Homo sapiens: one gene and its partner. The protein of the gene in region 1 purifies or fractionates together with the protein of each later gene. This does not show direct contact. Each region holds a gene or a part of one and is shown on either strand. Other genes may lie near its edges.

What was found.
Region 2: the proteins of MTO1 (region 1) and FAM170A purify together in Homo sapiens (co-immunoprecipitation; one large-scale study listed by IntAct). This does not show direct contact.

Annotation. Positions count from the first base shown.
Region 1 is NC_000006.12:73,477,316-73,482,236, reverse strand, and holds part of MTO1 (5-taurinomethyluridine-[tRNA] synthase subunit MTO1, mitochondrial), read right to left. Parts: intron 2,506-4,921; coding exon 2,393-2,505; intron 2,302-2,392; coding exon 2,111-2,301; intron 1,945-2,110; coding exon of another isoform or gene 1,870-1,944; intron 1,563-1,869; coding exon 1,432-1,562; intron 1,241-1,431; coding exon of another isoform or gene 1,121-1,240; intron 209-1,120; coding exon of another isoform or gene 198-208; coding exon 1-197. UniProt on the Homo sapiens protein: Component of the GTPBP3-MTO1 complex that catalyzes the 5-taurinomethyluridine (taum(5)U) modification at the 34th wobble position (U34) of mitochondrial tRNAs (mt-tRNAs), which plays a role in mt-tRNA decoding and mitochondrial translation.
Region 2 is NC_000005.10:119,631,673-119,636,858, reverse strand, and holds the end of FAM170A (protein FAM170A), read right to left. Parts: intron 4,112-5,186; coding exon 3,971-4,111; intron 2,900-3,970; coding exon 2,125-2,899; intron 1,832-2,124; coding exon 1,825-1,831; 3' UTR 1,773-1,824; intron 1,160-1,772; 3' UTR 1,037-1,159; downstream 1-1,036. UniProt on the Homo sapiens protein: Acts as a nuclear transcription factor that positively regulates the expression of heat shock genes. Binds to heat shock promoter elements (HSE).

The DNA of each region.
Region 1 (4,921 bases):
GTGAGCCGGCTGTCAGCATTATCAGGGCGCAGTGACAAACGGAACTCTACTCGGCTGGTAAACATGCGGTATGGTTCACTGGTGCCCAGAGTAGTGAGGTCATCAATCAAGACTCCTATGTAACCTTCTGTTCGGCTAACCACAAAGGGAGGCTTGCGACTGACCCGAAGACTGGCGTTGATTCCGGCTATCACACCCTACAAGAGCACTGAAATGTTTAAAAGGCCATTATGAACTAAACAAACGGCTATCCCATTCAGAACACTACTCAGAAACAATGGCATGGGACAGGAAGAAAGCAAGTATTGCCCCTAAGGGATATAATAGAGGTAGAAAATGTGATCCATATTCAGAAATAGAATATGGGTAATATATCACTTTAGAAGGCTATGATTCATTGTTTTCAGAGATATCCATCTAATCTTCCTGATAAGCTGCACTCTGCGGGGACTAATCTTTTTTTTATCCGGAGACAGGGTCTTCCCCTGTTACCTAGGCTGGGGTGTAATGGCATAATCTTGGCTCACTGCAGCCTCGACTTCCTGAGTTTAAGCAATCCTCCCACCTCATCCCCCCAAGTAGCTGGGACTATAGGCACATGCCGTCACACCTGGCTAATTTTTACATATTTTTGTAGAGATGGGGGTCTCACTACATCACTCAGGCTGGTCTCGAACTCCTGGCTCAAGCAATTCTCTCTCCTCAGCCTCCCAGAGTGCTGGGATTACAGGTGTGACGCACCATGCCCAGCCGGTTAATCTTTTTTTTAAAACCCACCTGTGAAACTTCTCTAGCCTTTTCCCACTTGCAAATAAAAATAAAATAATTTCTGACTTACAAGGAATAATAATATAATAATTTCTAATGAAGTATATTAAAATAAATTTTAAACTTCACAAGCAATACATCTAATCAAAATATGATATCACACAGGAGCTCAGAAAAGAGTAATAAAGCCATAGTGTTTTAATAATCCTATTATTGGCTGGGCAAGGTGGTTCACACCTGTAATCCCAGCACTTTGGGAAGCCAAGGCAGGTGGATCACCTGAGGTCAGGAGTTTGAGACCAGCCTGGCCAACACAGTGAAACCATATCTCTACTAAAAATGCAAAAATTACCTGGGTGTTGTGGTGCATGCCTGCAGTCCCAGCTACTAGGGAGGGCTGAGGCAGGAGGATCGCTTGAAGCTGGGAGATCATATCACTGCACTCCAGCCTGGCAACAGAGCAACACTCTGTCTCAAAAAAAAAAAAAAAAAAAAAAAACCCTATTATCTACAAAAGCCATCTCCAAACACCCTGAAACATAAATTGTCTTCTATTAGTATGAATTGTATCTAAGATCTACATAGTTAACACAACAGACATTAAAAGGAGAAATACCAGTTAAATAGTCCCTTTCAGTTTACATTAATATCTTAACTTCTTACTTGAGCTGCAGCTTCCTCATAACCAGTGGTGCCATTGATCTGTCCAGCAAAGAAGAGTCGTTGAACCAAATGAGTCTCCAAGGAAGGGGTGATCTGACGGGGATCTAAGTAATCATACTGAACACCGTAGCCTGACCAAAGAACAAAGACATTAAATAAGTAAATACAGAGCTGGATTTGCTCAAGGTAGAGATGCAAGCATTACCCTTAAATGCCCTTTAAAAACAGACTATTTAGGTCAGGAGCAGTGGCTCACACCTGTAATCTCAGCACTTTGGGGGGCCAAGGCGGGTGGATCACCTGAGGTCGGGAGTTTGAGACCAGCCTGACCAACAGGGAGAAACCCTGTCTCTACTAAAAATACAAAATTAGCCGGGCATGGTGATGCATGCCTGTAATCCCAGTTACTCAGGAGGCTGAGGCAGAAGAATCACGAACCTGGCAGGGGGAGGTTGTGGTGAGCCGAGATCGCACCATTGCACTCCATCCTGGGCAACAAGAGCAAAACTCCGTCTCAAAACAAACAAACAAACAAACAAAAAACAGACTATTTAAAATGTATAGGTGTTGGGCTTCATCTTCTGAGGCTCTGAACAACAATGACTGTAGCTAAGGCCTCCTCACTGACCATTAAAACAATGCTGACCTTATACTGAAGGGCACTTGTGATCTTCTTTACCTGGCTGAATCACTTTAGCTTTCTCCAAGCCTCTGATGCATGTGATCATTTTCTCTTGTAACTCAGCTGGTAGCGTCATAGATAACCCCTGTGGGTAGATAAGGTCAGAATCCATTCCTTCAGGTTCCAACCAAACCTGATGTAGACGGTTTGGAAAACGCAAAACTTTTGATTCAATGGAGGGACAGTATCTAGAATAGAACATTTAAATAAACTTGAAATGAACAAAAGAGGATTGACGTCATTCCTTAAAGTAACTGAGCACTGACATTTTGTCCTTACCGAGGTCCTCTTGTCGTTTCTTTAACATGACTATTAAGGTGAAGGTTCTTAAGGACAATCTCATCCACTCTAGGGTTGGTGTGAGTCAAGTAACATGGCAGCTGATCTTCTGGCTAAAAAACAGTAACCAGATGCAATACTGATTTGCTTATCTACTAGTTTCTCTCTTATCCAAATAAATTCCACATGATACGTACTGACTTTAATAGACACTAAACTTGTGCATAATGCCTAGTATTACTTATGAAGTATTCTTGCCAAAAATAAACATCCCAAAAGATGAAGTTAAATTTAAGCAAAACTCTAAATCTAACTAGCAGTTTAATTTTTTTTTAATGTTTTTATTTTTTGAGACGGAGTCTCACTCTGTTGCCCAGGCTGGAGGGCAGTAGCGTGATCTCAGCTCACTCCAACCTCTGTGTCCCGGGTTCAAGCGATTCTCCTGCCTCAGCCTCCCAAGTAGCTGGGATCACAGGCATGCACCACTACGTTCGGCTAATTTTTGTATTTTTGGTAGAGACAGAGTTTCACCATGTTGGCCAGGCTGGTCTCGAACTCTTGACCTCAGGCGATCCACCTGCCTCAGCCTCCCAAAGTGCTGGGATTACAGGTGTGAGCCACCGTGCCTGGCCATGGTTACTTTTTTAAAAAAGTTATTGCCAAGTGCAAGTGGCTCACACCTGTAATATCAACACTTTGGGAGGCCAAGGCAGGTGGAGCACGAGGTCAGAAGTTTGAGACCAGCCTGGCCAACATGGTGAAATCCTGTCTCTACTAAAAAGACAAAAATTAGCTGGGCATGGTGGCGGGTGCCTGTAATCCCAGCTACTCGGGAGGCTGAGGCATGAGAATCACTTGAACCTGGGAGGCGGAGGTTGCAGTGAGCCGAGATTGCACCATTGCACTCCAGCCTGGATGACAGGGCGAGATTCCGTCTCAAAAAAAAAAAAAAGAAAAAAAAAAAGTGTTTTTGTGCCCACCCAGGGACTCCTTGCTTTGTTTGGGCTGGGCGCCGTGGCTCACGCCTGTAATCCCAGCACTTTGGGAGGCCAAGGTGTGTGGATCACCTGAGGTCAGGAGTTTGAGAACAGCCTGGTCAACATGGTAAAACTCTGTCTCTACTAAAAAAATCCAAAAAATTAGCCAGGCATGGTGGCAGGTGCCTGTAATCCCAGCTACTTGGGAGGCTCAGGCAGGAGAATCGCTTGAACCCAGGGGGTGGAGGTTGCAGTGGGCCAAGCTTGCGCCATTACCATTGCACTCTAGCCTGGGCAAGACTCTGTCTCAAAAAAGAAGAAAGGGTTATCATAATTTGCATACTACCAAAGCAAATATATAAAAGTATCTTGCTCAAAGTAACAGAATATTTGAAGCCATACATCAGGATAACACTCACCAGAAACTAGGACCATCAATTATTTTTTTTTTGTACAGGCAGGGTCTCATTATGTTGCCCAGGCTGGTCTTGAACTCCTAGGCTTAAGTGATCCTCCTACCTTGGCCTCCCAAAGTGCTGGTATTACAGGTGAGAGTCACTGTGCCTGGCCAATTCTTCATCCTCAATCTTAAACACATACAATATACTTTTTTTTTTTTTTTTGAGACAGAGTCTTGCTCTGTCGCCAGGCTGAAGTGCAGTGGCATCATCTCTGCTCACTGCAACCTCTGCCTCCCGGGTTCAAGCAATTCTGCCTCAGCCTCCCAAGTAGCTGGGACTACAGGGGCATGCCACCATGCCCAGCTAATTTTTGTATTTTTAGTAGAGACGGGGTTTCACCATGTTGGCCAGGATGGTCTCAATCTTTTGACCTTGTGATCCACCTGCCTTGGCCTCCCAAAGTGCTGGGATTACAGGTGTGAGCCACCATGCCACGCCACATTTTTTTAAAACTCGAGAGATAGGTAAAAGTGGCCTCTACACTTCAAAAATGTCGGCACCATTAAAGATTGACAAACTGTTCCAGATAAAAGACTTTAAAGAGAAATGACAATTAAACGCAATGCATGACCCTTGATTGGGAATAAAAAGGTTGTTTTGGGCTAGGCTTGGTGGCTCATACTTGTAATCCCAGCACTTTTGGGGCCCAAGGCAGGCAGATCCCTTCAGTCCATGAGTTTGAGACCAGCCTGGGTGACACTGCAAAAACTCATCTCTACAAAAAATACAAAAAGTAGCCAGCCATGGTGGTGAGCACCTGTGGTCGCAGCTACTTGGGAGGCTGAGGTAAAAGGATCATCCAAGCCTGGGAGGCGGAGGTTACAGTGAGCTGAGATTGCACCACTGCACTCCAGCCTGGGCAACACAGTGAGATCCTATCTCAAAAAAAAAAAAAAAGCTGCTTTGGACAATATTTACCAATTAGCAAAATGTGACTACGGACTTTATGTTAGATAATAGCACTGTATCAGTGTTAAATTCTCCGAATTTCTTTTTTTTTTTTTTTTTTTTTTGAGACATAGTCTTGCTGTTGCCCAGGCTGCAGTGCAGTGGCACAATCTCAGCTCACTGCAACCTCCCCATCCCTGGTT
Region 2 (5,186 bases), on another chromosome or scaffold:
AGCACAGCAATGGATGTCTGGGTATACATTCTAGAGAGAGACACACATTCTGTGGTAATAGAGGAAATTTGGATGCAACTGAAATTTCATCAAAAAGACAATAAATAAAAAGTTGGCATATTCATAGAATGAACTATAATACAGTAGTAAAAATTAGTTAACTACAGATATGTGTATGACAATGGATAATCTTAAAAACCTGTTTTTTAATAAAAACAAGTTGAAAACTAATAATGAAGTACAATAGTATGTGAAACTTTCAAGATATTCAAAACACTTTATATATTTATATAATAGTATAAAACATGCACAGAAGTATTAAAAAATACTCAAAATCCATATGTAAGGCAATGGAACAGGGGACTATGGCTGTATTTGTAATCATTTTTACTTCAAAGCCATCTGAAGCAAACGTAGAAAAATGCTAAGCTTAATAAAGCGGGATGATGGAAACATAGGTATGTAGTGGAGTTTGTCATGGTCTCATATGAAATGTGATATCCAGCCTTGAAAAAATTGTCACACAGAAGTCTAATCAAACCCAGGAGCTTGGCTATTGCTGCCTCTGGAAAAGGCTGGTAGATATCTTTAGTGCTGATGTAAAACTTCGTTCACAAACCACTGGAGAGATAGATGAAAATAATGAATAGGGCTGGGCGCCGTGGCTCACGCCTGCAAACCCAGCACTTTGGGAGGCCCAGGCGGGTAGAACACTTGAGCCCAGGAGTTCGAGACCAGCCTGACCAACATGGTGAAACCTCATCTCTACTAAAAAAATACAAAATTAGCTGTGTGTGCTGGCACATGCCTGTAATCCCAGCTACTTGGGAGGCTGAGGCAGGAGAATCACTTTAATTCAGGAGGCAGAGGTTGCAGTGAGCCGAGATCATGCCATCGCACTCCAGCCTGGGCAACAAAAATGAAACTCCATCTCAAAAAAAAAAAAAGAAGAAGAAGAAGAAAAAGAAAAAGGAAAAAAAAAGAAAATGATGAATAGATAGGTAGATTAATTTGTTAATTAAATAATATATCCAGGTAAGGTTTGAAACACAACCTTTATTACGTATGATGTTTACATGTTAGACTGAGTGCTGGTCCCTCATCTGCTTCATACCTTGGGCAGCCTGTCTGCTACTATCTCCATGGCTCTTTCTTCTCCCTGGAAGTGAAGAAAACAATTGAGGCAGAAGAGGAAGAGGCAAGAAACAATACAAGCATTGCTAGTCAGTTACCCTTCACCTTTGTTTTGAAGCTCAGAGTCATGCAACCCACAGTGAGTTCATTTCCAGATCAAATGCAGCAAAATGAAGGTTCTGAAACATTTCCAGTTCTCTTGGTGTCTCATCAGGATGATGTTGTTACCTCTCCAAATTCCCCTTTTCCCCAAGGGCTATATCTATGGGCTCAGGTGGGATCCCAGCTCAGGCCAAAGGCTCTCAGACTCCACACCTCTGATCTTGCTGGCATCCTGTCCTTTCAGGCCAATCCTGGCCCTTGAGGTTACACTGAGCTTCCGCTGCCTAGAAGAGCTGCAGCACCTCCTCTTAGAATTGAGGACAATCATGCAGACATTGAGAAAGTTCCCAGTCAATGCTCTTCACCTTGTCATCTAAGCAAATGGAGGACAATTCCCCCAGAAGCACCAGGTGCACGATAAGTTGATGTGGCTGCAGAGCCACCAGGTGACCCAGTGCATCCCTGCAGCTCCTTCCCTTGGATTCCTCTGGGCCCTCACAACACAGCCTCAGAAAACTGCAAGTCTCACTCCTTACCTCTTGCAAGAGAAGGCCACACCATCTTCCAGTATCTTCTGGCCCATAAGTCTCAGCTGCTGTGTGAAAATCAAACCAAAGAAAGACACTTCTTAGTTAATGCGACTTTTGAAATTCTCAGAATTTCCTGCAGGAGCTGGAAAGGTCAAGACAAATCCTGACTTACAATCGAGACTTTATTAGATGCCTAGGCAAGAAGCAGGGATCCCAGTTATGTCCCCCTCCATTGTTCCCTGAGCCAATAAAGCCCCCAAATCTTCCTTACAGAGACCTAAGCCTGAACTGGGGAGACAGTACTGGCTCGGGGAAGCCATTGCTCCCTCAGCAGACCCACAACCCAGGCTTTGCTCACTTCCTGTCCTTTGGAGAATGAAACACACAGCCTGGACATTGGCTCCAGGATCTCCTCAGGCCAAGGTCTTCTTCTGTGGGCTGCCCCTCCTCCTCCTTTGCTTCTGGTTTCTCTTCCTCCTCCTTCTCATTTCCATTTTCCTCCTCCTGCTCATCTTGGGTGCTCTCTGATTCCATGTTGCCTGTCAGCTGAGCCATGGTGAGATGAAAGACGTGGCAGCTGAAGCCCTCTCTGATCCCAAACTGCACATGCTCCTGGAGGGCTTCCATGGTGGTGAACACCCGGCAGCAGGCCATGCACCTGAAGCCGTTCTCCATGGTCACCAGCCAGTCAGGAGTCTTGGCTCTGGGTGTGTCCTCAACGGTGGGTGAGCCTGGCAGGCTGTCTGATTCTGTCCTTTCCTCATGCTCTTTCTCCTCCCCACTGGGCTCACTGTCAGACAGGAGGTTTCTGGTGGACACATCAGAGGGGGGAGTACCTACCCTCACAACCTCAGAAAGGGTCACTTCTTCCATCCTTGGCTGCTTTTCTAAGGACTCCAAAGTTTCCTCTGTCTCCCAGGAGACAGCCACACCTTTGTTCATTTGTACCTGCATGTAGTATATTTTCATGCCCCTTTCCTCTTTGTTTACACACAGAGAGGACACACAAGTCTTATAGGATGAATAGGACGACAAGGAGACATGTTGTGAGCGGGGAGGAGTCTCTCCTCGTTCCTGAACCTGGGCCAGGGGTGATTGAGGCTGGGGGCTGTCTCGATGTATTCTCTGGATTCCTGGGAAAGGAAATTAGAAACATGAGCAGATGCATGGGCCATGCTAGGAGCTGAGGGAACGTAAGTTAAATATGTGTGGTGCAGGAGACAGGGACTGTGGTGAGATGCAGCTGTGTAGTGAGCTTGGTATTTGTTGTTCATATTGTGGGGTAGTGATTCTAGTGTCATTTGCGTGTAGGGATGTTGGTGGGGTGTCCATATACAGGGGTGTGGAGTATGGTGGTGAGGACTGCAGCATATGTGGAATGTCGGCAGCATGTGTGTGCTATGAGGATGTGAGTTGGTGCCATCATTGATGTGTTATTTGTGGAATGTGGGAGGTAGTGTGGGAGAATGGCACTGCAGGTCATGCATTTGGGTGGTGTGTGTGCAGAAAGTGTACCTGTGGAGCGTGTGGCTGTATGTGTGAGGTGTGTGGGCCTGAGCTAGAGTCCCGCTGCAGTGCTGGAGGCCTGGGCTGAGGAAATCTGTCTTTCTCTGGAAGGCAAAGGCAGAGCCCAAATAGTTCCGATGAAAGTGCTTAATCTGGTCCTGTGGCCCTACACCCCAACAGCAGACTTTTCTGGCCTCTGCTCCCTGACTGCCTGACTGCACACCAGGGCTCATGCTCTCCTACACTGAGCTTATATCCATGCTCTTCTAACAGCTCTGTCATCTTGCCCAGACACCTCTGCAGAGCTCTGATCATATCCAACTGCCCTGGGTTTCTTCTTAGCCTCATCCTTGGATCTATGGGCCTCCTGCCCCCTACCCAAGGAGCCCTGCACCCAATCCCATGCCTAAGGAGTCCAGCACCCAAAGAGTCACATACCCATAGCGCCCTGCATCCAGAGTCTCATGCTCAAGGAACCTCACACCCAGAGAATGTCACATCCAAGGAGCCCCACACCCAAAGACTGTCACACCGAAGGAGCCCCAAACCCAAAAAGCCCCACTCCCAAAGAGTCTTACACCCAAGCAGCACTGCAACCAAAGAGTCTCATGCCCACAGAGCCCCACACTCAAATATTTTCATGCCCAATGAACCCCACAGCCAAGGAGCCACGTGCCGAAGGAACCCTGCACCCTTACCACTGTGGATGAGCTTGCGTGAAGAAGAAACGCAGGAGCAGTATTCGGAGGTAGAAGTAACTTCTCCCACCCCTTGGCTCCAGCCTTTGGCCACTCTAGTGGATCCAGGCTGCAGGGCATCCTCTTGGGACTTTGACATTCCTGAGAAAGGTATGAAGGGAACAGAGATATGATGGATGGGTAATGTTTGTGCATCATTTACCATCCAACAAATATTTACTGAGTGGCTGACCTATGTCAGGTGTAGTGAACACACATGGTTTGTGAGACAGGCTTCTGGTGGATACTCCAGTATTTAATTACAGTCAACAGGTATTTTGATAGTGTATCAATAGGAACATAGGCCTGTGTGGTGACTATGAGTACGTCTGAAGCGTAAGAGTGATACATACCAGATAGCCTTTGATATGTGTAGATTTGTGTGGGTATATTGTAGAAACATGTGTCTGTGTCTGTGGAGTTTGTGTGCATAGTTTTGTGTTTACAACCCTGAAATTATGCAATATGTAATTTTTCCTGATTGTATGGTGTGGCTTGTATTTATAATGTACATTAATTCATTCATCTGGCAATATTTTCATGAACAGCTACCATGAATCAGACACCAGTCCACTCTTCTAGGCTCTAGGAATACTGAACAAAACAGTCCTTCTTCTAAGTGGACTTTCCATTCTAGACAAGGAAGACAGACATTAAGCAGAAATATATAAGTATATCATAGGTCAGCTCATTATGAATTTATAAGGGTCATCAGATTTAGCAAACAAAAATAGCTGATGCCAAGTTAAATTTGAATTTTAGATAAATTACAAATAATTTTTTTAGCGTAAGTATGTCCCGTGCAATATTTGTCATACTTATTTTTAGTGTCAGTATGTTCCATAAAATATTTGGGACACACTTATACTAAAAAATCATTGGTGGTTTATCTGATATTCAAGTTTAACTGAACATCCTGTATTTTATCCGGCAACCCTAATAAGGGGATGGTGGTGAATCTTTGTTTCGTTGTGGTCTATGCAAAGCAGGCCTGGCTCTGCTACACAATGTGTTGCAGATATGGCATGTATGATGTGTGACTGGCTCTTAAAGAGGTATTTAGAGATAGTTTAACATAGATGTGTTTGTGTGAGAGTTGAGGAGACACACACACACACTCCCCACACACAAGAAATCTCTGTAGGAAGAAAAGACTGTCACACACATGGGTTGTGTG